7 linked regions of the Homo sapiens genome follow. The protein of the gene in region 1 purifies or fractionates together with the protein of each later gene. This does not show direct contact. Each region holds a gene or a part of one and is shown in the gene's direction. Other genes may lie near its edges. The genes, in order: CHST5, DIPK1A, SETD1A, RRP1, CSGALNACT2, TMEM18 and ALG9.

Region 1 (3,296 bases):
CTGGCTTTCCTGGAACACAGGTAACAAACACCTTAGCTTGGGATCAAGATCCTCCCTACCCAGGGAAGGGCTGGGCTGGCCAGGACAACTGTGTTTGGGCCAGAGCAGCAGGGTCCTGCACTCTGCAGGGGGCAATCACAGGTGGGAGAGGCCCACAGCCTGGGATCAGAAGTGCCAGGAGCTTCGGAACAGGAGTCCTGGAGTCCCAGCTTTCTTGCTGTCTCTCTAAGCCTTGAGTCTTTCACCTGAAAAATTGACATCATCATGCCCACCTCAGGGCCCAGAGTTAAGTTATCCAGTGGACTCGAAGCACCTAGCACTTGTGATCATTGAAGTCAGCAAATATGAGTTCCCTTCCTTTCTGGCACTCTGTTGGCAAGGGAGCTCACCATCCATCAGCCAGCACTGGAAAAAGTACAGTTGCACTTGTAGCGGAGGTGGGGGGCTACTCTCCTCATCTTCCAGGTTTTCCAGGAGTGGGTGTGGGGATCCAGAAGGCAGCTCGGGAGTCAGCAGGTGACAGAGGTGTTGGGCATCCTCCGCTCACTCCTGTCCCCGCATTGAGGCGAAGGAGCAGAGGTGAGATCTGCTCACAAGTTAGACCCTGGCTTCTCTCAGTGGGCAGTGTGGACAGGGGAAGGGGGCAGGCAAGGAGCAAAGGATGCAGGAGCAAGGAGAAAACTTCCAGGCTCCTCCCTTCCAAAGTCACCCAGCCTTGAGATCATTGCAGATGCAACAGGTGCAAACAGAAGAACACTTTAGGACCTTGGAATGCGGGAGGCTGGCTCAGTGTTCCTTCCACCCTGTGAGAAATGCGTGACATTCTTAAGGTCCACTAAAGGCTCAGGGTGGTTGGACGCCAGAGGATGGCCTGGGAGATACAGGGATTGGAAGGGTAGGTGGCCTGTGGGTGTCTCCTCTGTGGGGAGACTCACCAGGTGGAGGGGGTTCTTTCTCTCCAGATGTAGCTCAGCACAGGGACAGTAACAGTAACAGGGGCATGTGTGTAAGGAATGCTTCCCCAGGCCCTCCCCTCATAGGTGTTTGCAGCAGCATCCATCACAACAGCTCTAAGAGGTTAAATATTGCAAATCCCATTCTACAGAGGTGCAAATTGAGCCTCAGAGAAGTTAAGTCACTTGCCCCAGGTCTCATAGCTCCCCATTGGCAGTGCTGGGATTTGGAGCCAGCTCTCTCGCTTCCATCCATCAGGAGACCCCGCCAGTTCCCAGCCATTTGGAGAAATGCCCTACTCAGACTTATTCAACCTCAGCAAGCCTGGTGGTGGTGTGACATCCGCCTAAACCGTCATCAAGCCCTTTAGCTCCACAACCCAAAAGGGTCTCTCTACGAGTTATCCTGAAGCAAAAGGCAGGCAGGACAGCTCTGTTCCCACCCTGGGGAGCTTTCTATGTACAGGGCTGTCTCTCTGTAGGGCTCTGATCTCCTCTCCTTCCTGCTTTGCCAGATGTCGAGACATCTCCCATGGATTTGTGATCAGCGTTGCAGCTCTCCCAGCAGCCCTGGACGGTGGTGAGTCCCCTCAGCTGGCCAGGACAGTACTCTGCTCTCACCTCTCTGCTTCTTGGGCTCCATCCCAGCTCCCCATCAACTGATCTTCTTGCAAACCCACAGGGCTCCAGGACACCCTCCTTCTGGAGCCCATGCTGCCTACAGCACTTCACTCCCCACCAGTGATGACAACAGTTGCTGTTCTTTGTCCACTTTATTTACTTGTTTATCTTTAATGACAAAAGTTTTTTTTTTGTTGTTTTTTTTTTTTTTTTTGAAACGGAGTCTCACTCTTCACTCAGGCTGCAGTGCAGTGGCGCAATCTCAGCTCACTGCCACCTCTGCCTCCCAGGTTCACGCCATTCTCCTGCCTCAGCCTCCCGAGTAGCTGGGACTACAGGCGCCCACCATCACGCCTGGCTAATTTTTTGTATTTTTAGTAGAGATGGGGTCTCACTGTGTTAGCCAGGATGGTCTCGATCTCCTGACCTCGTGATCCGCCCGCCTCGGCCTCCCATAATGCTGGGATTACAGGCGTGAGCCACCGCGCCTGGCTGACAAAAGTTTTATACCTGCCTGTTAAAAAAATTATATAATACAGAAGCACACCTTGTAAAAGGTGCAATCCTCAGTTATGGGCATGACTGCGTGTTCCCTTCCCCCATCTTCATTATAATAACCCCCCAATCCCCCCAGATCCTGTGAGCCAGGTACCGGAATTATCCCTCTTTCACACACGGGTAAAGTGATCCGTCACAGAGAGATTTAAGTGATCTTCATAAGCAAGATCATAGGCTAGGAAGTGGCAGAGCCAGGATTCAACCTCGGCGAGCCTGGTGGTGCTCTGACATCCACCGAAGCCCCCATCAAGCCCTTTTAGCTCCACAACCTAAAAGGGTCTCTCTAAGAGGTATCCTGAAGCAAAAGACAGGAGTTCTCTTTGAAACATAGTATTTCTCTCTACAGATAGATAGCCTGTAGGTATGTAAGTAGGTGGGTGGGTGGGTAGGTAGACAGTTTGATGATATCCCACATTATTCTGCAACTGGACTTCTGCTGTGAGCACAGACTATATTCTGGCCTATGTCTTGACTCCGTATTCCTGGGAAAGTGCTCGACTGAGACCTTGGGAGTCTTGGGAAGTCCAATGGGTAGGGTAGCCGAATCTGAGGGCTGATCCCTGAGGGCACTGGGCAGTAATTGGGGCATGGGATGGGCATGAGGGCCCGGGTCCCTAAAGTTGCCCACTCCACCCGAAGGCCCCCAGCCGCCCGCATGTGGCTGCCACGGTTCTCCAGCAAGACAGTGACAGTGCTCCTCCTGGCACAGACCACCTGCCTCCTGCTCTTCATCATCTCCCGGCCAGGGCCCTCATCCCCAGCCGGCGGCGAGGATCGTGTGCACGTGCTGGTGCTGTCCTCGTGGCGCTCGGGCTCATCCTTCTTGGGCCAGCTCTTCAGCCAGCACCCCGACGTCTTCTACCTGATGGAGCCCGCGTGGCATGTGTGGACCACCCTGTCGCAGGGCAGCGCGGCAACGCTGCACATGGCCGTGCGCGACCTGATGCGCTCTATCTTTTTGTGCGACATGGACGTGTTTGATGCCTACATGCCACAGAGCCGAAACCTGTCCGCCTTTTTCAACTGGGCAACGAGCCGCGCGCTGTGCTCGCCGCCCGCCTGCAGCGCCTTTCCCCGAGGCACCATCAGCAAGCAGGACGTATGCAAGACACTGTGCACGCGGCAGCCATTCAGCCTGGCCCGGGAGGCCTGCCGCTCCTACAG
Region 2 (4,257 bases), on another chromosome or scaffold:
TGGCTCACGCATGTAATCCCAACACTTTGGGAGGCTGAGATGGGAGGACCACTTGCGCCCAGGAGTCTGAGACCAGCCTGGGCAATGTAGTGAGACCCTGTCTCTCCAAAATTTAAAAAAAATGCCAGGTGTGGTGGCACACACCTGTGGTTCTAGCTACTCAGGAGGCTGAAGTGGGAAGATTGCTTGAGCCCAGGAGGTTGAGGCTGCAGTGAGCTATGGTCCCACCACTGCACTCCAGCCTGGGTGACAGAGTGAGTGAGTGTCTCAAAAAATAAAAAATAAAAATAAAAAAATACAAACAGCCGGGCCCGTGGCACGGGCCTGTAATCCCAGCACTTCAGGAGGCCAAGGTGGGTGGATTGCTTTAGTCCAGGAGTTTGAGGCCTACCTGAGCAACATAGCAAAACCCTGTCTCTACAAAAAATACAAAAATTAGCTGGGTGGCCAGGCACAGTGGCATACACCTGTAATCCCAGCACTTTGGGAGGCTGAGGCGGTAGGTCACTTGAGGCCAGGCATTCAAGACCAACCTGAGCAACATTGCGATACCCCCTCTCTACTAAAAACACAAAAAATTAGCCGGGTGTGGTGGCACATGCCTGTAATCCCAGCAACTCCAGAGGCTGAGGCACAAGAATCGCTTGAACCTGGGAGGCGGAGGTTCCAGTGAGCCAAGATCTCACATCACTGCACTCCAGCCTGGACAATAGAGCGAGACTGTCTCAAAAAATATATATGTATTAGCTGGGTGTGGTGGCACACACCTATGGTCCCAGCTACTCGGGAGGCTGAGGTGGGACAATCACTTGAGCCCAGGAGGTCAGGGCTGCAGTGAGCCGTGTTCATGTCACTGCACTCCAGCCTGGGTGACAGAGTGACACCCTGTCTCAAAAAAAAAAAAAAAAACAAAAAAAAACCAGACAAGATTGCTTCCCTTACAGACCTTACATGATTCCAGAGGGACAGGAGGTACAAACAGTTGATAAATAAATAAATAAACAAACAAAATAATTGTAGAATATGGTGTGTTCTGTAGGAGACACAGAGGGCAAATTGATAGAGAATGCAGTGTAAGGGATGGTGAGAAGTGCTTTAGAGGATGTGATCAGAGAAGACCTTTCTGAAATAATATTTGAACTTATACCTTAATAAAAAATTCATAGGCATGGGAAAAGGACAGGATGAACTAAATCACAAAAGAACTGCAAACAGCTGATGAACATAATGAAAAAAAATTCTACCTTACTTTTCATCAGAGAAATAAGAATAAAACAGTAGAATATCTAATTGGGGTAGAAGAAAATACAACGAAACATCTGGAGCAGTGGAAAATTGCATTTTAATGTTCATCTTATGGTTCCTAAATTTTCCTATATAAATATGCATTATTATTATAGAAATTTAAACTAATTTTTCAGTTGACAGTATTAATCATGTTAAAGACAATTTCTAAAACAAAGTCCAACATTTGAGTGTCTCCTGCATGCCAGGCACTGTTTGAGGCACTGAGGGAGACAGATAAAGCCTCTGGCCTCATGTTCTAATGTGAGATGAGACAGATAGTAATGAACTGATAAATAAATAAATATGATAATTTTAGACAGTGCAAAAGGCTATGAGGATAATGAAACAGGGTTAGAGGTGACCTGGGGGTGGAAGAGGATCTCTTCTAGACAGGGGGTCAGGGAAGGCTTTCTAAATGCAATGTCTAATCTGAGACTTGAATGATGTAAAGGAGCCAGCCATGTGAAGATCTGGGAGAGTACATTCCAGGCAGAGCCAGCAGCAAGTGAAGCAGGTCAGGAAGCAGAAACAAGCTTCAACCTGTCACAGAAAGACCAGTGTAGCTGGGACTTTGAGAAACGGAGTACGTGGTACAAGATCAGGTTGGAGACATAGGCGAGGCTAGCTCAAATGGAGCCCAACCGGTCATGGAAAGGACTTTGGACTTTAATTGAAAGGGGAATTTATTAGAGGGTTTGGAGCAAGGCAGTGAAATAATGTTTTCTTTGGATTAATATTAAGAATGAATATGATCTTATTTATTTTTTTATGTAGAAGAGGGGCAACCTATCCTAGTGGTAAAGACCTCAGCTCTTTTCAGCATGTTACTTCACCTGTATCTGCTTCAGTTTCCCCATCAGTGAAATAAGTATAATGATAGTACCTACCACCTAAGATTGGTACAAGGATTAAAATAATAACATAAATCAGTAAAAGCCAGGTGTGGTGCCTCATACCTACAATCCCAGCAACTTGAGAGGCTGAGGCAGGTGGGTCACTTAAGGCTAGCAGTTCAGGACCAGCCTGAGCAATACAGCAAGACCCCATCTCTACAAAAAATGTTTTTAATTAGCCAGGTTTAGTGGTACATGCCTATAGTCCTGGCTACTTGGGAGACTGAGGCAGGAAGATTCCTTGAGCTCAGGACTTTGAGGCTGCAATGAGCTATGATTATGCCACTGAACCCCAGCCTGGGTGACAAAGCAAGACCCTGTCTCTAAAATAAATTAGTAGACCATAGGACATAGTTAACACTATATAATATTAGTTTGATAAATAACTAGATACTTAAATAGTAGTTAATTCTGGGGAAGTGGGATTATGGAAGTAGAATGTCTGGGAACTTTGCTTTTGCCTTACATCCTTCTCATTGGACTTTTTGAAAAATATATTTAGGCATGCATTACTCTTATAATTTAAAAAATTAGTTTAAGGAAAAAATCTTGAGTGTGATTTCAAGTTTGCAGTTCAGAAATAAAGTCACACCTTAACCTCAATGTTTGATGCTTGTTTTGTTTTGTTCAGAGGAGGAGGACCCTAAAAATATAGTAGTATATTTTTTAGAGTTTTCTACTCAGTATAATACATAACTTGCCACTCTTTTTTACATAGATGTATTTAGGGATTTGGGATAATCTACCAGGTGTTGTGAAATGTCAAATGGAACAAGCGCTTCATCTTGATTTTGGAACTGAATTGGAACCAAGAAAAGAAATAGTGCTATTTGATAAGCCAACTAGAGGAACTACTGTACAAAAATTTAAAGAAATGGTCTATAGTCTCTTTAAGGTAAGCATACCCATTCATATGTTGCTAGTGTGAAGTGGGACTCTTTAGAGGAATTGGCAGGACCTCATCCTAAGCCATTAAAGTGTTGATATTCTTTGACCTCTATCAGATTCTCCATCCTGAGGAAATAATTATAAGAGGCCGGGCGTGGTGGCTCACGCCTGTTATCCCAGCACTTTGGGAGGCCAAGGCAGGAGGATCACTTGAGCCCAGGAGTTCAAGTCCAGCCTGGGCAACATAGTAAGACCTCAGCTATATATATATATATATACACGTATATATATATATACGTGTGTGTGTATATATATATATATATATACACACATATATATATACACACATATATATATATATATATATATATATATATATATATATATATATATATATGCCAGGAGTGGTGGCATGTGCCTGTAGTCCTAACTACTTGAGATGCTGAGGTGCGAGGATTGCTTGAGCCTGGGAGGTCGAGGTTGCAGTGAGCCAAGATCTCACCACTGCACTCCAGCCTGGACGACAAAGTGAGACCCTGTTTCAAAAAAAAAAAGAAAAAGAAAAGAAATCTGTGTTGGAGAATGTTTACTTTAACATTATTTATGATAGCTAAAAATGTCCAGATATGAGGAGGGAGTTCATTAATTAATTGGAGTGCTGTACAGTTTGACATGAAAATTAATTCAAAAAAGGTGAAATAAAATGAGTATACTCTTAGAATTGTGGCTATTAGAGGCTGGGAAGGGTACAGAGGAGAGGAGAATAAGGAGAGGTTGGTTAACAGATACAAAATTACCGCTAGATAGGCAGAATAAGTTCTAGTGTTCTATAGCACTATAGGGTAAAGGGATTAATAATTTTTGGTTATTTTCAAAAAACTAAAAGGATTGTGAATGTTCACAACACAATGATAACTGAGACATAAATATGCTAATTACCTTGATTTGATCATTACAAATTGTATGTGTGTATTGAAATATCACTATGTATCCCATGAATTTTTTTTCTGTGTGCTCCCGTTCACAATACAGACAAGGCGCAGGGCCTGGGCTGAGGTGTACATGGGAGTTCACCTCCTCATTCTATACAGTCAGTATAAGAACACAGCCTGGGGTAAGCACCAGGAGGCCTGGGGATTTTTTTTCTTTCTTTCTTTTTTTAAAAGATGGTTGGTTATTTGTTTTGTTT
Region 3 (4,257 bases), about 45 Mb from region 1:
GTACCATCGACTCAGCTGTACAGCCTGGCAGCCTGTGATTCTCTCCTTTTCTCTCTCAGTTGGTCACCGAATCCTCCTGGCTCTTTTCTTTTTTATTCTTCATCTTTCTATTCTCATTGCCACTTAATGTAGACCTTGGTATTCATTTCACCTGGTCTCCTTGCCTTCGTTCTTGCCTCAGTTTCTCCTCTGCCTTGCTGTCATTTGTCTCTTTGGCTTCACTACGCTGCTGTTTTCCTTTTGTTGCCAAGTCCATGTTTTGGGACACTGACATGTATGGTTATTGACCTGGCCAAGCCTTATCCTCCGCCTTGACACCACACCCCTGTGTTACATCCACACCATAACGCTTTGCGGTTTTTCAAAAACACCAAGTTGTTTTATATTTCCATGTTCCAGGGGTCCTTGTCATTTGATGAATTGTTAATCCCCAAATCTCAGTAAGAATGACACCATCTTTATGAATTCTTCCCTGATCATACTCTGTACAAAAGTTTCCTTCCCTGGGCTCCAGAACACCATGTATGCGTCAGCTGCCACTGGGTCGTGTTGTGTTTGTATGTGCATGTCATGCTGCTTTTCTGTATGGGAATCTCTTCCTTTCTATCTCTGTATTTCCAGTGCCTCGTTCATGGTAGTTACCTAGTAAAGGCTGAGCTAGGAAATCATCGCCCTGTAGCTCGTTCTCTCCACGTATATTTATTCCTCAGTGTGTACATTTCTTTCTTTCTTTCTTTTTTTTTTTTTTTTTTTTTTTGAGACGGAGTCTCGCTGTGTTGCCCAGGCTGGAGTGCAGTGGTGTGATCTCGGCTTAGTGCAACCTCTGCCTGCCAGGTTCAAGTGATTCTCCTGCCTCACCCTCCTGAGTAGCTGGGATTACAGGTGCCCACCATCACATCCAGCTAAATTTTTTTTTTTGTATTTTTAGTAGAGACAGGGTTTTATCATGTTGGACAGGCTGGTCTTGAACTCCTGACTTCTGGTGATCCGTCCACCTCATCCTCCCAAAGTGTTGGGATTATAAGTGTGAGCTGCCACACCCGGCCTAGTTTGCACATTTCTGTTCTTAATTCTTGCTGTTATTCTGTGGTGAGAAGAATTCAGGGAAAAGGGGTCAGGTCTGATGGATCCCTTATTTTGGGCCCCTTCCCTTGCCCCTCACTTTCCCGGATCTCTCTCTTGACTTCATGGAGCTTGCTAAAGTTTCCCGAAGGACAAAGGAACAGTGGTCAGTGTTGAGACCCCATACCAACTCCTGTTCTTTCCCCAGCTGGACGAGTTCTATATTGGACAGATTCCACTGAAGGAAGTGACTTTTGCAAGGCTGAATGACAACGTGCGGGAGACCTTCCTGAAGGATATGTGCCGTAAGTACGGTGAGGTGGAAGAGGTAGAGATCCTCCTTCACCCCCGTACGCGCAAGCACCTGGGCCTGGCCCGTGTGCTCTTCACCAGCACTCGGGGCGCCAAGGAAACGGTCAAAAACCTCCACCTTACCTCCGTCATGGGCAACATCATCCATGCCCAGCTTGACATCAAAGGTGAGGACTCCTCTGCCTGCCACTCAGGCTTGGCCTCCAGCGGAGGTTGTACATGCAAATGCCTGTCAGGGTCAGGCAGGCGCCCAGGGTCATGATCTGAAACTGCTGGGGCCAGTTGTGTTTCTGAAATCAGATCAGATTTTAGAGTGGAATTATGGTACATGGATTTTTGTGTGTGTGGTGTCTCCAGCAAGGTCGGGCAATAGGCCATAATCAAGCACATAACTATCTGTAAAAAAAAAAAAAAATCATATGAAGGGTTGTACTAGGTAAGATGAATAGATTGTAGTAAATCAGCCCAGGTCAGGTTGGTTGCTTGGTTGGTTTTTGAGACAGGATCCTGCTCTGTCACCTAGGCTGGAGAGCAGTGGCGTGATCTTTCCTCACTGCAGCCTCCAGCTCCTGGGCTCAGCCACCCCAGCCTCCTGAGTAGCTGGGATTATGGGCATGCACCACCACACCTGGCCAAAGTTTTTTTGATTATTTGCAGAGATGAAGTCTCACTACACTGCCCAGCCTGTTTTTAATTTTTTTTTTTTTTTTTTGAGATGGAATCTCAATCTGTCGCCCAGGCTGGAGTGCAGTGGCACGATCTTGGCTCACTGCAACCTCCACCTCCCAGGTTCAAGTGATTCTTCTGCCTCAGCCTCTTGAGTAGCTAGGATTACATTTATGCGCCACTACGCCCGGCTAATTTTTGTATTTTTAGTAGAGATAGGGTTTCACCCTGTTAGCCAGGCTGGTCTTGAACTCCTGACCTCAAGTGATCTGCCTGCCTCGGCCTCCCAAAGTACTGGTATTACAGGCATGAGCCACCATGCCTGGCCTCTTTTTAATCTTTCTATATGCTATTCTATAACCCATATAGGTTTTGGTGCCAGATTCTCAGAAATACTGGATTTTCTGGGTTTTTAGGTTTGGAAATTTGAGATAGAGAGTAAAGGAGCTGTGAACACAAGCGAGGTGGTCTGGGCTTCTGTGTTGAGTGATGGGGAGCAGTGGGGTCTGTGGCGAGCTGCAGATTGCAGTATTGTCTGGAGGAGGCAGCCATTAGTAGGCACTGGCCAGTTTGCAAGTGGAAATGAGGTTTAACATTCTTGAATTTGGTTTGTAAAAGAAAGCCAGGGCCGGGCATGCGGTGGCTCACGCCTGTAATCCCAAGACTCTGAGAGGCCAAGGTGGGCAGATCACCTGAGGACAGGAGCTCGAGACCAGCCTGGTCAACATGGTGAAACCCCATTTCTATTAAAAATAACAAAAATCCGGACGTGGTGGTTCATGCTTATAATCCCAGCTACTCGAGAGGCTGAGGCATGAGAATCACTTGAACCTGGGAGGTGGAGATTACATCGTGCCACTGCACTCAAGCCAGAAATTTGGGTTTTTGTGTGAAATCTCATGGTTTTTAAATACCATGTTTCTTTCCTCACAAGGTGTTTCTGAGGTGTTCACTCCACAGCTCCTGCAGGCTCCGTTAGTCCCCCGGTTGCTGTTCTGCATGCTTTAGTTTACAGGATAAAGAGCATGGGGTGATCGAGCCTCTGGGTTTGAATTCCAATTTTTCCAATGACCAATTCTGTGACTTTGTGTAGGTCGCTTTTAAGCCTCTAGAACAGAGGTACTGATGCTTCCCTTCTGGTGATCCAACATGGTAAAATAAGTAGAAGTGTTTTTGATAAATCGTGAAGTGTCATAAAATATGTTGTTTGTGGTAGTTTAGAGGTAGAGATAAGGTAGAAGGTCCCAAAGGTAGAGTTATGGTAGGAGAACTGAAATCCTGAAACCCAGATTCCAAGAAATTGTAGGAAACTTGAGGCCTGAGAAAGCAGGAATACCAGATCAGGAAGGAGTTAGTATCTCCATCTGACAATTGGTTCCCATTTCCCTCCCTCCAGGACAACAACGAATGAAATACTATGAACTAATTGTCAATGGCTCCTACACCCCTCAGACTGTGCCCACTGGGGGCAAGGCCCTGAGTGAGAAGTTCCAAGGCTCGGGTGCAGCCACTGAGACGGTGAGAAGTTTGTGGCTACCACAGCCCCTAGCCATGTGGGCATGGTGTCCGGGTGCCCGGAGCAGGAGCAGTCTTCGGGAGGTTCCGGGCTTTCCCGTTAAACAAAGAAGAGCCAAGCAAAGCTGCTGAGATGCTTTCAAAAGACAGGGAACTAGGGGCCAGGCACAGTGGCTCACGCCTGTAATCCCAGCACTTTGGGAGGCCGAGGCGGGTGGATCATGAGGTCAGGTGATTGAAACCATCCTGACTAACACGGTGAAACCCCATCTCTACTAAAACTGCAAAAAATTAGCCAGGCATGGTGGTGGGCGCCTGTAGTCCTAGCTACTTGGGAGGCTGAGGCAGGAGAATGGCATGAACCCGGGAGGCGGAGCTTGCAGTGAGCCGAGATCACGCCACTGGACTCCAGCCTGGGCAATAGAGCGAGACTCCGTCTCAAAAAAAAAAAAAGGGAACTAGGATTCCTGGTTTGGGAAAGGGCAGGTCTCAAGTGGTGTTTGAGCCCATTCCTCTCTCCTTGCCCTGCTCTGTCGCTCTAGGCCGAATCCCGCCGCCGCTCTTCCTCTGACACAGCTGCCTACCCAGCAGGCACCACTGCGGTGGGCACTCCTGGCAACGGCACCCCCTGCTCCCAGGACACAAGCTTCTCCAGCAGCCGACAAGATACCCCATCTTCCTTTGGCCAGTTCACACCTCAGT
Region 4 (4,257 bases), on another chromosome or scaffold:
TTAATGAAAGGGTGTCCAGCCGAGGAGCTTCTTATAAAAACACGGCATGTTCCGCTTCATTAGCAATGCTTTTTGTTTTTTTGAAATAGGTGTCACTGTTGCCTAGGCTGGAGTGCAGTGGCGTGATCTTGGCTCAACTACAGCCTTGACCTCCCGGGCTCAAGTGATCCTCCTGCCTCAGCCGCCCAACTGGCTGGGACTGCAGATGTGCACCACCAGGCCCACGTAATTTTTGTATCTTTTTTTGGTAGAGACGAGTTCTGTCCTGTTGCCCAGGCTTGTCTCAAACTCTTGGGCTCAAACAATCTGCCTGCCTAGGCCTCCCAAGTTGTAAGCAATGTTAATTGCTCCTAATTCTAAAAATATGTAAATTGGCTGGGCGCGGTGGCTCACATCTGTAATCCCAGCACTTTGGGAGGCCGAGGCGGGCAGATCACAAGGTCAAGAGATCGAGACCATCCTGGCCACCATGGTGAAACCGTGTCTCTACTAAAAGTACAAAAATTAGATAAATGCATAGAAAAGAATTAGCAGGCTGGTTATGGTGGGTTAAGGGGATCTCTTGAGCCCAGGAGTTTGAGGCTGCAGTGATCTGTGACTGAGCCACTGCACTCTAGCCTAGGTGATAGAGTGAGATTCTGGTTTTTTGTTTTTTTTTTTTAAAGAATCAGCAGGAATTGAACTGTGGCTGCTGAGTTTCTCTAGGTTTGAGTTGCATGGGTGATTTTGCATTTAGGGCAGCGGTGCCTCTGGTTTGGAGGGATTTTCATTCTTCTATTCCCTGGCAGGACTCTGATGCCAGGAGTCTCATTCATTCTGGGCCTTAGCATTGTGGATTACCCCATAGGGGTCTCATGGCTTAAGCTGAATTAAATGTTAAAGGGATGATTTTACTTGTGTTAACTTTTTTTGGCATATTATTACAAGAGTACTTTTCTCCCTGTAACTGAGAATTCAGCACAGGAATCATGTGGAAGACCTCGGTGCCTTCCCCCAATGCCTGCTGCGGTCCCAGTGCTGACAGTGGGGTCCGCTCTTCCCGCCCTCTTGGATCTCCTGCAGGCATAACCAGGCTGTCATTAATATCCACGCCATTGCCACTGGCCTGGGAAGTCGGTCCCTTGCATCTGTGTGTCTTCCTCTTGGTCTCAGCACCTGTTCTTGCCTCTGTCTCGTTTTTCCTGAGCCTTAGAGAGCATCACTTTTCCTTTCCATCACGAGTGATTCTCCAGCCTTGCTACGGAGCTTCCTAAGGATCACACAGTTTACAGATCTGAGTTAGGCAGCTGCGTTATTAAGCACCCCAGGAGGTCCAGATGCATGTAGGTGCTACACATTATTCTCTGGGGCTGTCTAGTCTTCAGATCCAGGGCCTGTGATGCCATCAAACCCGCCTGCCAGGGAGAGCTCTGGTGGACGTCACAGTTGGAATGCGTCGTGCGGCAGGGCCCAGGAAGCCAGCAGGTGGCTCATGGTCCTCGGCCCCTTTCTGGGCCTCCACCTTCCTTTCTCTGCCTGTGCTGTCCTGACGTGTCTTCCCCAGCGGTACCCAGTGGAGGCAGTGGAGAGGAACACCAGGCAGGGCGTCTCGTCTCAGCCAAGCCTTTCTCTCTGCTAGCAATCTTGAGGACAGAGGGAAGGCCTGTCTGAATGTTTACACGTGCTGCATTTTGTAGCTGACATGCACACTCAGGCCATACGTTCTGGTGGTGGTGCTGGTCACATAACTCCCTAACTGCAAGACTGCCTTGCGCTGGAGGAGACCTAGGATCGTTGATATCATCTGCGTGGACTTTAAGGCTGGCATGTTTGCAGACAGTGGCGCCTGCCCGCACTTAGGTTCCCATCAGAGCGTGTAACCATGGGAGAGTGGGGGGCACGGCTGTCTTGGGGCTCATCGAGGCTGCCTGTCATGTTTGCTTTTTCTTTCCTCAGACAGATCGAGGAGCTGCTAGAGCTGCTGATGACTGAGATCCTGCACCCCAGCAGCCAGGCCCCCAACGGTGTGAAGAGCCACTTCATCGAGATCTTCCTGGAGGAGCTGACCAAAGTGGGCGCCGAGGAGGTGAGGCTGGGCTCCGACGGGGCGGTGGAGCTGGGCGTTTGTGGAGGAGGAACTGAGCTCCCGCTGGCTTTCCCCGTAGCTTACGGCAGACCAGAACCTGAAGTTCATCGACCCCTTCTGCAGAATTGCTGCCCGGACCAAGGAGTAAGTGGTGGGTGGCCTGATCGGGCCCGACTCCTTCACTGAGTTCTTCCATGGGGCTGCTGTTGTGGGGGTGCTGCTCCCTCGAGGGATGAATCTGTCTCAGAGTGGCCGCTGGCCGTGTGGGTGGGGAGAGGTTGCAGGGGAGTCGGCGGCTTCCGCTTGGGAATCCAGCATAACGGGCCTGCTCACCGGCCTCTGCTCTGCCCCTCAGTTCCTTGGTTTTGAACAACATCACTCGAGGCATCTTTGAGACGATTGTGGAGCAGGCCCCGCTTGCCATTGAAGACCTCCTGAATGAACTGGACACACAGGATGAGGAGGTGGCGTCGGACAGTGATGAGTCCTCTGAGGGTGGTGAGCGTGGAGACGCGCTGTCCCAGAAGAGGTCTGAGAAGCCGCCCGCAGGTGGGGGTCACACTGCGCCTGGCTTCTCCTCGGGGCCTGTCCTGGGCTGAGCCAGTGCGATCTCCTGCTGGGTTGCTCCTGCCACCTCCTACCTGGTCCCCTTGTCTCTGCCCCTCTCCACAGTCCATCCTCAGCATAGAAGCCAGAGTGACTTCTGTGGGCACCAAGCACACGTCGTTTCCCCTCATCCCCCAGCCTCTGATGTGCTCCACGCCCTCTCCGGACCCCTGGGCTCCTCGGTCTAACGCATGCCTCTGGCTCAGTTGGCCCCCTAGACTCGTTCCTGCCTTGGTGCCGAGTCTCTCCGTCCCTCCCACCGTCTCTCCCCCCATCACTCTCTGGGGCTGGACTCTTTCAGCCTCCTGGCCTCTCCCAGCCCCCAACGCAGTCCTCCCCATAGCGTCACTCTGTGGCACGGGATGTGAATCACTTGCTCCTCGTGTTCCTCGTTCCTGGCCCGTCTCCCCAGAGGACAGCAAGCTCTGTCCATATTGACCATGACTGGGTTCAGGCCTGAGACCTCAGGGCACCTGACTGCTCTGTGTGCAGTGTGTGTGAGGGGCAGGTGTACTCACCTGCCCCTCACTGCCTGCCAGAGGCCTCTGTGGGCAGCCGTGGGGTCCAGCCTGGCCCATTTTTTGTTTTGATGCTGCACTCATTGTCCGAGCCTGCTGGGTGGTCTGAGCTCTAAGTGTGGCATCCTGGTGCTGTGGAGGGCATGTCTTTGACCACGCTCAGGACCCCAGTATGCCCCAAATCAGTGCTGTGGCCACTGTTCCCCTTGGCTTCCTAATCAGAAGACCCCCTCCCCACCGCCCCCAGCACTTGGCCCGGCCACCCTGTATGCTTCTCCCTGGTCTCTGCCTTGCCCTTCTCTCTCAGTAGCTGAGGTGCCTGGCAGGTCCGCTAGTGCCTGCTGCTGGCCCCCTGCTGCCAGCTACAGAGCAGACCCTTGTCACATGCTGCCCCACAGCTGCCTGTTGCCCAAAAACCTTTCTTCTGCAGACAGTGCCATCAAAGCCCCAAATGCCCAGCCTAGCTCGAGCACCCAGCCGAAACATCAGCTCCCACAGCTTCTGGACCAGGCCACCCTGAGGCTCCTCACTTCCAGAACTTTTGACATGGCCTTTGTTGCCCAAGATGCCAGCTTGTAGTCAGCCACTCAGGGCTGTGTAGGCACCTGTGCCCTGGGACATCTTTTTTTCCTTTGCAGGCCTGAGGTGGCACCTCTCATCCTGTCCATACGAGATTAGAGGTCACATGGCACCTAGTATCTGCCTTGAGCTGTGGGCTTTCCCGCCTGTGCCCATGTTCTGACCAGGGTGCAGGGTGGGCTGTCCGTTCCCGGGTGTTTCCCGCCTGTGCCCGTGCTCCGACCAGGGTGCACGGAGCGGGCTCTCCATTCCTGGATGTTTGGGGCCAGCACACGTTGGGCACAGGTAGGGTTCACGGGGTCCCTTTTGTTCCAGGCTCCATCTGCAGGGCTGAACCTGAGGCTGGTGAGGAGCAGGCAGGTGACGACAGGGACAGTGGCGGCCCCGTTCTCCAGGTGGGTTCCCTGGGCTCATGGCTGTGCCCTCAGCCTTTGCCCCTCTGTGCTACCGCTTGCTCTGGAAGAGGAGGGGGGCGTTAGGAGGGAGGAT
Region 5 (4,257 bases), on another chromosome or scaffold:
ATATCTGTTTAACTTGTTACCCATAGTTGCAGGTGTTTAGAGTAGTCTTACAAAAGCTTTCTCTATAACTTTACTGTTGTGCCCATGGGTTGTTACAGCTGGGAGTAATCTTGGTTATCTAGACCAAGGACTTTCACATTTTTTTGAGATGAAACCTCCTTTACTTGTCTAGTGAACTGTTACACAAAATCCCAGTATTTAATACAAATGAAAGAAGACCTGCTCTTTCTAGCGCGTCTTGGAATCACACCTTAGTCATGCATTCCCCTAAGCCTAAAGATGGCCCATGAATAATTTGTTCTAACTATCCTGCATGCTCTGTTGTCCAGGCTGAAGAGCAGTGGCACAATCTTGGCTCACTGCAGCCTCTGCCTCCCAGGCTCAAGCGATCCTCCTACCTCAATCCCCAAGTAGCTGTGACCACAGGCGTGCACCACCACACCCAGTTAATTTTTTTGTTTGTTTTGTAGAGGCGGAGCTTCATTATATTGCCTAGGCTGGTCTTGAACTCCTGGGTTCAAGCAATCTGCCCACCTTGGCCTCCCAAAGTGCTGGGATTGCAGGCGTGAGCCACCATGCCCAGCCCCTAGCTTCAGTCTTACCCAGCAAAATATAAAGTGTCAAAGAATAGTTTAATAAAGCAGGCTGAAACCTGATTCCATGTCTTCTGATTCATTTAGGGCTAGCTACCTTTCTACAGCATAGAAGTCATAGAATATATTTTATATACATTCTAGGTCCATATCACATTCGTTTTTATAACCAGCCTTTTGTTTTGGAAATCCCCCCACCTTGTCTCCTTATCATTGTAACACTTGAATAATGGAAAATCAGGAAATAACAATAAAAGGGGCGTTAAATTAAACTGATGCTCTTTTCCTTGATTTCTTGCTTAGTTAAGCAAGCAGCATTTCACTATTCCTCAAAAATAGATTTGTGTACATTTTTTCAGTATCTTGAATGCTTTGAGTTCCTTATCTCTTTTTTATGACAATTTTATTGAGATATAGTTTACATATCATAAAATTTATTAATTTAAAGTGTACGGTTAACCAGGTCATGTAGCTATCACCACCATCAAATTTAGAGCATTTCACCCCAAAAAGAAATCCCATACCCATTAACAATCACTCCTCACATCCTACCAACCCTCTTTCCCCCCAAACTTAGGCATCTACTGGTCTACTTCCTATAGATTTGCCTCTTCTGGGAATTTAATAGAAAGCAAATTGTACAATATGTGGCCTTTTATGACTGGCTTCTTTCACTCACATAATGTTTTCAAAGTTCATCCATGTTGTGACATGTTAGGTACTTCATTCCTTTTTATAGCCAAAAAATGTTCTATTGTGTGGTTATACCACATTTTGTTTCTCCATTTGTCAGTTTATATGCATTTGAGTTGTTTCTACTTTTTGGCTATTATAAATACTGCTGCTGTGAACATTTGTGTTTAACTTTTTGGGTGGACATAGATTTTCAATTCTCTTGGACATATGCCCAGGACTCTGGCTGGGTCATATGGTAATCCTGTGTTTGACCTTTTGAGAAATTGCCACACCGTTTTCCAAAGTGGCTGCATCATTTTACATTCCCACCAGCAGTGTTTAGGAGTTCCAGTTTCCCCACATCCTCATTAATACATGTTATTATCTTTTTGTTTCTAGTATCACCCATGATAGTGGATGTGGTATTGATTGTGACTCTGATTATAATTTTTCTTATGATTAATGTTGTTGAGCATCTCTTGATGTGTTTATTGGCCATTTGTATATCTTTAGTGAAATGTCTGTTCAGATCCTTTGCCCATTTTAATTGGGTTATGGAGTTTCTTGGGCTTCTTGAATATGTACATTAATGTTTTTCATCAAATTTGGGAAGTTTCAGCCATTATAGTCATCTCTCAGTACCTGCATGGGATTGGATCCAGGATACCATGTGGAACCAAAATCCATGGTCGATCAAGTCCCTTATGTAAATATACATATTTTCATATTACCTGTGCATATCTGCCCATATACTTTAAACCATCTCTAGATTGCTTATAATACCTAATACAGGCCAGGCACGGTGGCTCACGCCTGTAATCCCAGCACTTTGGGAGGCCGAGGCGGGCAGATCACGAGGTCAGGAGATCAAGATCATCCTGGCTAACAAGGTAAAACCCTGTCTCTACTAAAAATACAAAAATTAGCCAGGCGTGGTGGCAGGCGCCTGTAGTCCCAGCTACTTGGGAGGCTGAGGCAGGAGAATGGCATGAACCTGGGAGGCGGAGTTTGCAGTGAGCCGAGATTGCACCACTGCACTCCAGCCTGGGCAACAGAGTGAGACTCCATCAAAAAAAAAAAAAAAAAACCCTAATACAATGTAAATACTATGTAAATAGTTGTTATATTGTATTTAAATTTTTATATTTATTGTTATTTTTTATCGTTTTTTTCCCTAATATTTTTGAACCATGTTGGTTGATTCTATGGGATGTGGAACTCATGCATATGGAGGGCTGACTGTATTTCTTTGAATACTTTTTCTGCTCCATTCTCATAGTTTTCTCCTTTGACACTCACTGTATGTATGTTGGTACATTTAATGGTATCCCACATTTTTCTTAGGCTCTGTTTATTTCTCTTCATTCTTTTCTCCCTCTGTTCTTCAGATTGCATAATTTCTATTGATCTATCCAAGTTCTCTGATTGTTTTTTCTGTTAGATCTACTGTTGAGCTACTCTAATGAATTTTTATTTCAGTTACTATAGTTTTTAACTTCAGAATTTCTATGTGGTTCTTTTGATATATATATAATTTCTTTATTAATACTCTATGTGATGAAACATTGTCATCTTCTGTTACTTCCTTAAGTGTGACTTCTTTTAATTCTTTGAACATACTTACAATGGCTGCTTTGGAATTTTTGTGTATTAAAGCTAATGTCTGGGCCCTAACACAGGCAGTTTTTGTTGCTTGCCGGTTTTTTTTTTTTTTTTAAGCGTATGTCACATCTTCTTGTTTCTTTGCATTCCTCATTATTTCTTTTTCGAAAACTAGACATTTTAGGTAATACACTGTGGCAACTCTGGATACTGATTTCCCTCTACCACCACGGCTTGGTTTTTTTTTTTCCTTGTTTATTTATTTATTGACATGGCTGGACTATTTTAACAAATTATTTCTTCCTCCTTCCCCGACCTTTTGGCAATATGAAGCCTCTGCTGTTGCTCCTCAGGGCCTGTGCAGTTATCCTAGGATGGCATTGGATTTAGCAGGGCTCTCTTTATCTCTTTCCATGCCTCCATTGGTATCACTCCTATTAGACTCCACTGACTGTTCACTAATTGCTGTCTTGTTTTTGACAATGCTCTGGGGCATAAATTGCTCCATAATCTGTCCCTACTAAATTGGGCCCTTTTGCAGGGATAGTTTTTGCAGCAAGTCTTTGAGATTTGTTCAGACCCCAGGAGGTATATTCTTACTATCTCTCTCTGTGGTTCTCTCTAGTAAATTAGCTGGCCTACAGTTTAGCTGTTGCCCTCCTGGAGTTACCAGCCTCCTCTTAATTGCTTACTACCAAAATCTCCATTATTTTCAAGAGGCTGGAACTTCTCTAAACTCTGAACTTCTCTACATTCTATTTTAAATAAAGTCAGTTCCTTAGGGAAGAACTTTGGAGCACTTTGTTCTTATGGACTTCCTCTCCCCCGGGGGAAAAAATCCATGAGGTTTTGCCCTGAGGATGGGGACAGTGACACACTTATTAAGCAGAGTGACCACCTCTGCCCTATGAGCAGGACACTGGGTAGGGGCAGGAGGACCCCCAGTATTCTCAGCTGGCCACACCTGGAAGTGGAGCCTCCACCCTGTTGCTGTGGGCTGGGTGAAAAAGAGCTGCACCTGTTTAGAACTTAGACTCTTTATTTGGAGCTTCTGTTCCCTTGTTTCCTTTCTTCCTGGTATTCCCATTATACATATGTTACATCTTTTGTAGTTGTCCCACCGTTCTTAGATATTTTGTTCATTTTATTTTCAGTCTTTTTTTTTCTTTGATTTTCTGTTTTGGAAATTTTTATTGTCATATCCTCAAGCTCAGAGATTGTTTCTTAAGCTAAGTCCGGTCTACTAATGAACCCATCTAAGGCATTCATTTATTTCGCAGTGTTTTTGATCTCTAGCATTTTTTTAAATTCCTTAGATCCATCTCACTGCTTATGTTCCGCATCTTGTGTGTTATCTGCTCTTTCCATTAGAGCCCTTAGAGTATTA
Region 6 (4,257 bases), on another chromosome or scaffold:
GCGAGGAGGGCCTGGAGGCCTGGCTCAGGCTACTCTTGACTCTCAACATTGGGGAGACACTGAAGATTTTGCTTGGTAGTTAAAAATAACTAATTTCAGATAAGTTTAGTTAGCTGGCTGTGTGCAAAGCGGGAAATCTGAAGAAGAGATGATCTTAGAAAGACTGGAGAAGTGATGAGGGTTTGCATCACAGTGGGGGCCTATGCAAGTGAGGCGCTCAGAGCAAGCTCTGTATTGAGGGTGCCCTGAGGAGTGCTGGAGTGGACCAGGCAGACAGGGCTCCTTTGCCTCCCACAGCTTCCTGGGGGACACCAGCACCAGTGATTCATCACAGACCTGTGTTATCAACAGTGACAAGTGTTGCAATGGAAAAGCCAAAAACACAGTGAAACAGGAGGAGCGGCCTGATTTAAATCACACAGTCCCCTGGGAACCCAGGGGCAAAAGGTGCATAGGCAGGAGCCAGGCAGTGAGATGCTGGCAGAGGGCAGGAGCAAGTGCCCCACGCAGAGGCCCTGAGGCAGGCATCTCAAAGAAAGGTGATGGCTTCACCAGCTGAGCTCCTGGATCTGAATAGCTTTGTCAGCTGGAGAACTGCACAAAGGGTTTGATGTTTTCTAGGATAAGGGGAAGGATGACTGCTTTCACACCGGGGTAATACTAGACACTGTGCTGCCTGCCATTACATTTCCTGTGATTCATTTCTCAAACCAGCCAAGAGTTGGATTTTATTTGCCCATTTTTATAAATGAAACATGCAGAGGTTCTCTAACTCCCTCAGCTATACAGCTTATAACCAGCACCATCAAGATTCAAGATTCAGACTCTGCTCCAGGGTGCATTTCAGGAATAGCTGAGGAGGAGCACCTGGTGACACCCTCCCTGCCCGCCTTCCTCCCGTGCCTACCACCCTCCCCACCTTCCCCCTGTAACGTCAGCCCTCCACACCTTCCTCCCCGCACCCATGCCCACCACCTCCTGTGTTAGCCTACCCTTCTCACCTGCCTGGCTGTCCTGCTTCTCCTGGCCCTCCTCCTTCCCCTCCTTCCTCTCCTTCCCCCCCATCCTCCCCCTCCTCCTCCTCCTCCTCCCTCCCCTCCCCTCTGGTTCTTTCCCTGTGCATTCTTTTCCTCTGCTTTATTGAGTCCATTCCTGAAGGGAGGAAGTGGAGGGACTGCTCACCGTAGCCCCTAGTTTAATCTGCTTTCTGATGTGTATCAAGAAGAATGAAAGGATTTTTAGTTTGATTTACCTTGGAAGTTGAAGCATCACATTTTTCTTAATTTGCCGAATCATATTTTATTTGATTTTATGGTACCATGGGTCACTGTCTCATGGGTTTGAGTACCAGCATTACCCACGAATTAGCTGAAGACCCTGGGCCAGTCCCTAAAGTCTGTGTGCTCCTGGGAGCATGGAGGCCTTGCCCTGCCCCCACCAGCTGCTGCCCTCCCTCCCGTGCCTTTGCCTCCAGCACCCCAAAGCTGTTCGCTCCCCTCCTATGGTCATCTCAGTGGCAGTGTCCCAAGGTCAGCCCGGGAAGTGTGAGCGTGAAAAGCCCTTGGTTGTCAGCTCTGGGTCTCGTGGCTCTCAGCTCCTGCTGCCGTGTTCTGTGGGGCTGAACTGTGGCTGCTGTCCCTGGGGAAATGTGTGAGGTCCAGCCATGCCTGGGTGAAGCCTGGGGCCTCGGGCGGCTCCTGCAGTAGCTCTGCAGGTGCTGACCTGAGCACGGGCTCTGAGTGAGACCATAGAGCATTGGAGAACTGAAGCACTGTTGGCCTTGATTTTCTTTCTGCTAAATGGGTGAGTCCTACGACTTGACAATGTTAGGATGTTTACCTGATGTTATGTTTAAAATTAAAGTGACATTTCTATTCAGTATTCTGCTGTAAAGAATGTATAACTTTATAACGAGTAATAACGGGCCATCTAAATTCTAATATGACTTGTACCTTTTTTCAGTCATCTTAGTCTACTGTGCTGAATACATCAATGAGGCGGCTGCGATGAACTGGAGGTGAGCCCACCCCCGGGCCTGTGACCAGGTCCCTGCAGGGGTGTCCCTGGGAATGGCCCCACAGCCGGTGGGACTCGCGGAGGAGACAGTGAATCCTAACGTGGCAGCTGTGCACAGCCCGTGCCCGTGCATCCAGGGTTGGTGGGCTCCAGGGTGACTCCGTAAATGCTTTACCAGCGCCACAGTGGCCCTTTCTGAGCGTGGCACTGTGGGACAGTGCTGGCTGAGGCCTCTGATGGCAGAGCCAGAGAAGTGGCCATGGGAATTTGAGCTGCAGAATAGAAACAGCAGCATTTTAGAGAACGTGGTCCGCGCTGGCCTCAGCCATGCCCTCCCCCTTGGACTGCAGGGTGGCTGCTCCATGGGGAGTCTGGACCTGAGTAGGGGGCTTCTGGGTGGTCTGGGGCACCTGCCTGCCTCATCCCCAGCCCCACATCCTGATGTCGGGGGGCACCGCTGGCAGCCCTGGCCCTGCGTCCTCTGCCCCCTCCTCTACCCCTGGCTTCATCCCAGGGGACTCGGAACCCAGCACCTGCCCAGGTTGAACCACACAGCCTCTGTCAAGTGAGACCCACGGACTGTTTTTGAGTGGCCTGTGAGCTAAAAATGGCTTTTACGTTTTAAAATATAAAACAGAAAAAAAGTAAAACTGCCAGACCCTGAGCAGGAAGGAGCTGAGACTGTGGCCTTGTGGCCCATAAGCCCTGAACACTGATCTTGGGCCCTCACCGAAAGGGGTTGTTGAGCACTCCCTGAAATCCTTTGCTTAGACCCCGCCTGGTTTCCCGAACCCTCCCCTGACTCGGCCTCCTCCTGCCTTGCTCCTCCCTGCTCAGCCTTTCCCTCCACGACAGCGTCCCTGCAGCACTGTCTCTGCCCTCCCTCCTCCCTGCCCTCTCTTTAGCCATAAGCGGCTCACTGGGGACCCTGCCTCTCCTCCCGGATGCAGGGCCTTCACATGGTTCAGTCCCAGGAGGACCCTGCCTCTCCTCCCGGATGCAGGGCCTTCACATGGTTCAGTCCCAGGAGGACCCTGCCTCTCCTCCCGGATGCAGGGCCTTCACATGGTTCAGTCCCAGGAGGACCCTGCCTCTCCTCCCGGATGCAGGGCCTTCACATGGTTCAGTCCCAGGAGGACCCTGCCTCTCCTCCCGGATGCAGGGCCTTCACATGGTTCAGTCCCAGGAGGACCCTGCCTCTCCTCCCGGATGCAGGGCCTTCACATGGTTCAGTCCCAGGAGGACCCTGCCTCTCCTCCCGGATGCAGGGCCTTCACATGGTTCAGTCCCAGGAGGACCCTGCCTCTCCTCCCGGATGCAGGGCCTTCACATGGTTCAGTCCCAGGAGGACCCTGCCTCTCCTCCCGGATGCAGGGCCTTCACATGGTTCAGTCCCAGGAGGACCCTGCCTCTCCTCCCGGATGCAGGGCCTTCACATGGTTCAGTCCCAGGAGGGGTGTTCAGTCCCTGGTGACCCTGACCTTGTCCAGAGGCTGGCACAGGGTCATCCTCCCCGAAGCCCTCCCACACCCAGCTCCAGGGTGCAGCACCTTTCTGGCCCCTCCCTTCCCTCTGGCCGCAGCCTCCTGTCTTCATGCTTCTCCGAGATCTCCTGGTTTCAAAAGCGCTGGGTTTCTTGCCTGTCCCACCTGTTGGACTGGGCACCAGGACGTCTAACAAACATCTCAAAATTCACACTTCAGTCCGACTGCTCTGCTCCCCCCTCTTCGTAGGGGCGGCTTCTCCCTCCAGCTTCTTAGACCAGAGACGTAACAGGGCATTGTTCAGGAAGCTCCGTCCCTCCACCTTTAAGATCAGCCACGAGCCCAGTGTGTTCCATGCCCTTCACCCCACCCTCGCCGACCCGCTGCTGACATGCAGCGGTCCCTAAGCCGTCCCCCGACTGCCCAGCCTCTTGGGCATCCTGGGGAAGCGTGGGCCTCAGAGCCAAGCACTGCCCCTCAGAACGTTCCAGAGTGTCCCCAGCTCCCCCAGAGTAAACGCGGAGTCCTGCAGTGATGCCCTGCGGCCTCCTGCCAGCTCTGTCCCAGCCGTTCATGGCTGTGCCTACGACTCCACGAGGCCCCCTCACCCCCGACAGGCTTCACATTTCTCTGTAGCAGCACTCGCCACATGCTTGGACTGGCTGCCTCTTACTTCTGGGCCTCCCATGGTATAGAGTGTAAGCGCCAGCAAGGCGGGAGCCCCATGCTCATGAGGTGTTGACCCACTGCCCACCAT
Region 7 (4,257 bases), on another chromosome or scaffold:
AGGCTGAGGGCTGGGTCTAGGTAGACATTCTGCACTGCCCATAACTGCAGGTGTCTGGGGACTTCTGAAAATGCCCTGGGTCCTAGGCTTTTGCCAGTGGCTCTTCGTGGGGATTCATATTTACATTTCTATAATGATCTGATGTTAATCCTCTTCTAAAAGTGGTCTAGAAACTCCAGCTAGAAGAGAGAAGACATTCTTGACCCAACAGTAGTGAAAGTTCTCCACCATTATGTGGACACTGGGGAAGGCTGTGGTTAAAATGTCTATACCAGTTTCCTTTATGCTTTCTGTGGTTCTGAGAGCATAGGCCCTAAAGTTCTTTGTAGTTTGCTTCATTTGGCCAGAGAAGAGTCCTGTGTAGGTTAAAGGGAAATCTGGTTAAGATGAGTCATGTTGCTCCATTTGAGAAATGGCTTCAGTAGCTTGGCTTTACTGGGTAGTAGTTTCTTATGCTTCATAAAGACCCTGTGTCAGTCATTAATGATTAAATTAAAACTTGTTTTTTAAGTGTTGACTTTAGCCTTTGCCTTTTACGTTTGAAATAGTTTTATAGATAAAGATATGTTTGAGGGTTACTCCGGAACAAAGTATTTCTCCCATAGTGTGTTCTCAGTGCCATATATTACATTTCATTCTTTTTCTCTACACCTGATAATTTGCTTTATTTGATAAGTCTCTCTGCCCACATAGTAATTGACAATAAGCATTGGCACTTCTCTGGTTTTTTGATGATATGACCATTTGGTTGTGAATTTCACTGCTAACAGTTGGTGAAATGGGTCAAGAGACATCTAATTATAAATTTCTCAATGATTTTGGACTGACTTGTGACCTCTGCCTCTGTGCTCCCTGGTTGAGGTTTTAGCAGAAATATTTTTTCTTCAAGAGAAATGTTTTTCACATGATTTTCCTGGCTTGTTTGTTTCAAGTACATTTAGCAATATTATCCCCCTGTGTTTTTCTTATTCTCCTTGTGTTTCTGACAGTTGGCAGCTTCAGTTCATTCCATCAGAGTTCAGAGGTCAGTTACCAAAACCTTTTGCAGAAGGACCTCTGGCCACCCGGATTGTTCCTACTGACATGAATGACCAGAATCTAGAAGAGCCATCCAGATATGTAAGGGCTACATTCTCTTCTTGCTTCTCTGAAAAGAATTCTATGCCTAAAAGTCTGTTGGTGTGTATATTAGAGCATTGATAAAATGAGAATTTCTTAGAAAGCAATTTTTTTAAGGCCGGGTGCTGTGGCTCACACCTGTAATCCCAGCACTTTGGGAGACGGGCGGGATAATTGCTTGAATTCAGAAGTTCGAGACCAGCCTGGGCAACATAGCAAGATCACATTTCTACAAAAAATTAAAAAATAAGCCAGGTGTGGTGGCTTATGCCTGTAATCCCAGCCTTTCAGAAGGCTGAGGCAGGAGGATCACTTGAGCCTCGGAGTTCAAGGCTGCAGTAGGCCATGATTCCGCTACTGCACTCCAGCCTGGGCAACAGAGTGAGACCCTGTCTCAGAAAAAAACCGGATATTTTTTAGGATGAGGGGTATAACAGCTTTTGTTGAAAAACAGTAAACAGTATCACTTTTATTTTCAAATTAACCTCTTTATTTTCTATGTAAAATGTATAATTTAATTTTGAAGGTTTTGGGTAGGCTGAAAGTTTTCTTACGGTAGAAGTTTGAACCATTATTCTGAAACTCATATCATTCCTTGGCCTATTAAAATCCTTAATGAGGAACTTTCAAGTTATCAGGTGGACCTTTGACCTAGCTATTAGTATATTCCGGTTTTAACAAATGAACAGTAAAGACTGTTTCCATACTGAATGCCAGGGAGCAGCCTCTGTCAGGGCCATGATCTTCTCCCTACTTGTCTTTACACATTCTGAGATCCCATGCGAATTTTACTTCAGTTCCTTTGAAAGATGACACTTTTGACATTTGATACCTGTGAAATCTTTGATAATGAAAAAGGTAAGAAGTAATAAAGATAATGCTCCTTTTGGGTCACAAAGACAGTGTAAGATCGTTGTCTAGAATTATTAGAAAGCACATTTTTTGATAACCTGATAACCTGTCCGTTAAAGAAATATGTAACAGTTTAAATGTCAGCTATATTTAATTTACATTTTCTTATGTCATATGCTTAAAATGTAAAATAGCAAGACTTCCAATTCTCTTCTGAAGCAAACCTGCAGCCACATCTGGTCTTTTGTCTCCCAGATTGGGGCTGGTTAGAGTTCCATGGAGACCCTCAGGGTTTATGAGTGAGATTCTTATTGTATGAGCTGTAACTATAAGCTATGAAAATGGACACTTAAAGACACAGCCTTGAGCTGTTCCCTTGTAAGACAGGCGTTTCTGCCACATGGATTGTATTAGAGCTTTATTCTTTTAATTTAAGGCTCTGATTCCTGTTACAATGGAAATACCCTTGGGCAGGGTAGACTGTTACAGGTCATTTTAATTTTATCTGCAGATATGAGTCTCCTGAGTGCAGGGCATCATTCTAGAGAAGCTGGACAGTCAAAGGGTGGGAAAATACACTGTCATAGGGGGACAGTATGAATTCAGAGTGATGTTATCGGAGCTTTGCTTTAGGAAGAGGTAGTAAAAATGGAGTAGTAAAAAAAAGAGCGTGGACTTTGGAGTTGAGTAGGCCTGCATTCAAACCTCAGCTCTGTTGCTAAACTTGATAACCTTGGGCAAATTAGTTAGCTTCTCTGTTTAATTTCAGTTTCTGTCTGTAAAATGGCACCTACTTTGGAATTATGATATTTGATATTATATCTCTCTGTAGCAAAAATGCAATGTTCTTATGCTTGCACAAGTGTTCTTAATCTGATAATGGTATATTAGACAGATTCCAGGTAAAGAAACCCAATCTCTCCCCTTCCTTCTTTTTATTGTTTCCCATCCTTGTAATTTTATTCCAGTGTCTCCAGACTCATCATTGCGTTTTCCACCCCAGTGACTTCGCTTATATTGGTGACTATGCCTGAACTACCCTTGTGTCTCTTCTCACACTATCAAAATTATCTTCCTCTTTGAAGTGAACTATTTAAGTCCATATTGAGCAGACCTTCCTTTAAGTGTCTTCAGTATTTATCTGTGCAGTTCATTTAGCCATTTAATTTTCTTGGTCTTAGTTAAATATTTCTGATATCATATCTTTCCACATCAAATATGTGAATGCCATGAAGAGAATGACTGCACTTTGTTTCTTTTGTGTTCACCATAGTGTCTAGGACGGTGTCATGTACCCAGTAGTTCACTTTTACATGCTTTCTCAGTGGATAATGAATATTCATCGTCATTGTGGTAATGATGTTGAGAGAAAGCTGGCTAGAAAATCTACAGTGGCCTTTTGCACATTTCTTAGGCTTTTATCACTGGTTGTCTTAGTTAGATCATATTTCCATATTCTCTGCTGTCAGACAGTGTTAAATTTGATTAAATGACTCTATATGAGCTTTACCCGAAAGGTGATGATTTTTCAGGATGCCAGTAGGAGTCACCAAAATGCTGGCTGATAAAAGCAGGGAAAAACAAGTGATTTATGTCTGCTGGGTAGCAGCTGTGTCCAGCCCTTTGAATGCGAGGATTTTTTTGCTTATCTGTGGTGGCAGAATCATGAAAATTAGGCATGGACCTTTAGCTCTGGGTGGCAGGTTTTAGCCAGCCTTTGGCTTCAATGCTAAGTGCTCCAGCCTGTCCCGTTTCTATTGTGCATGGAAACGAGGAAAGTTGTATGACTTTTTTTATTTCACTATTTTCTTTACCTCTGGGCTAATCAAGAATTAGGAGTGAATAAGTGTAAAGGTTCTGTGGTTTGTACTGTACCATTATAACTATATTGCAAAAATAATGTTTTTGCTGCATATTTTTTCATGGTAGGTATTGAGTAGCTATTGAATATCTCATTATTGAACAGGAAGCATTTACAGGGGTACATGCCAAGATTGCCAAGATTTTCTGCCAGAATCAAGATCTAAATTTGGAAGATACATTCAGTGTCACCTCTTTAGTTCTTGAAAAATTCACATTTTTGTTCACTATTTCAAGGTGAATGATACACTTCCAGCTCCAAATCTAGTATATGATTTAGGAGCTACCTAGTCAATGGATGAAACCTTGGAGGAAAAAACAGCTCTTCAGGAGAGAGCTTACAGAAAAAGACTTTTTTCTGACTTTAATTTAATGCTTAAGCAGACTTGCTGGAAGTTTTCCTGTTTTCTTTCTTTTTTAAGAGAC

The links.
Region 2: the proteins of CHST5 (region 1) and DIPK1A purify together in Homo sapiens (affinity purification with mass spectrometry; one large-scale study listed by BioGRID and IntAct). This does not show direct contact.
Region 3: the proteins of CHST5 (region 1) and SETD1A purify together in Homo sapiens (affinity purification with mass spectrometry; one large-scale study listed by BioGRID and IntAct). This does not show direct contact.
Region 4: the proteins of CHST5 (region 1) and RRP1 purify together in Homo sapiens (affinity purification with mass spectrometry; one large-scale study listed by BioGRID and IntAct). This does not show direct contact.
Region 5: the proteins of CHST5 (region 1) and CSGALNACT2 purify together in Homo sapiens (affinity purification with mass spectrometry; one large-scale study listed by BioGRID and IntAct). This does not show direct contact.
Region 6: the proteins of CHST5 (region 1) and TMEM18 purify together in Homo sapiens (affinity purification with mass spectrometry; one large-scale study listed by BioGRID and IntAct). This does not show direct contact.
Region 7: the proteins of CHST5 (region 1) and ALG9 purify together in Homo sapiens (affinity purification with mass spectrometry; one large-scale study listed by BioGRID and IntAct). This does not show direct contact.

Annotation. Positions count from the first base shown.
Region 1 is NC_000016.10:75,529,813-75,533,108, reverse strand, and holds part of CHST5 (carbohydrate sulfotransferase 5), read left to right. Parts: 5' UTR 1-20; intron 21-1,468; 5' UTR 1,469-2,724; coding exon 2,725-3,296. UniProt on the Homo sapiens protein: Sulfotransferase that utilizes 3'-phospho-5'-adenylyl sulfate (PAPS) as sulfonate donor to catalyze the transfer of sulfate to position 6 of non-reducing N-acetylglucosamine (GlcNAc) residues and O-linked sugars of mucin-type acceptors.
Region 2 is NC_000001.11:92,846,001-92,850,257, reverse strand, and holds part of DIPK1A (divergent protein kinase domain 1A), read left to right. Parts: intron 1-2,898; coding exon 2,899-3,075; intron 3,076-4,075; exon of another isoform or gene 4,076-4,199; intron 4,200-4,257.
Region 3 is NC_000016.10:30,959,997-30,964,253, forward strand, and holds part of SETD1A (histone-lysine N-methyltransferase SETD1A), read left to right. Parts: intron 1-1,270; coding exon 1,271-1,541; intron 1,542-3,436; coding exon 3,437-3,558; intron 3,559-4,097; coding exon 4,098-4,257. UniProt on the Homo sapiens protein: Histone methyltransferase that catalyzes methyl group transfer from S-adenosyl-L-methionine to the epsilon-amino group of 'Lys-4' of histone H3 (H3K4) via a non-processive mechanism.
Region 4 is NC_000021.9:43,795,487-43,799,743, forward strand, and holds part of RRP1 (ribosomal RNA processing protein 1 homolog A), read left to right. Parts: intron 1-1,935; coding exon 1,936-2,065; intron 2,066-2,144; coding exon 2,145-2,209; intron 2,210-2,420; coding exon 2,421-2,614; intron 2,615-4,083; coding exon 4,084-4,163; intron 4,164-4,257. UniProt on the Homo sapiens protein: Plays a critical role in the generation of 28S rRNA.
Region 5 is NC_000010.11:43,176,282-43,180,538, forward strand, and holds part of CSGALNACT2 (chondroitin sulfate N-acetylgalactosaminyltransferase 2), read left to right. Parts: intron 1-4,257. UniProt on the Homo sapiens protein: Transfers 1,4-N-acetylgalactosamine (GalNAc) from UDP-GalNAc to the non-reducing end of glucuronic acid (GlcUA). Required for addition of the first GalNAc to the core tetrasaccharide linker and for elongation of chondroitin chains.
Region 6 is NC_000002.12:670,568-674,824, reverse strand, and holds part of TMEM18 (transmembrane protein 18), read left to right. Parts: intron 1-1,962; coding exon 1,963-2,017; intron 2,018-4,257.
Region 7 is NC_000011.10:111,833,027-111,837,283, reverse strand, and holds part of ALG9 (alpha-1,2-mannosyltransferase ALG9), read left to right. Parts: intron 1-989; coding exon 990-1,119; intron 1,120-4,257. UniProt on the Homo sapiens protein: Mannosyltransferase that operates in the biosynthetic pathway of dolichol-linked oligosaccharides, the glycan precursors employed in protein asparagine (N)-glycosylation.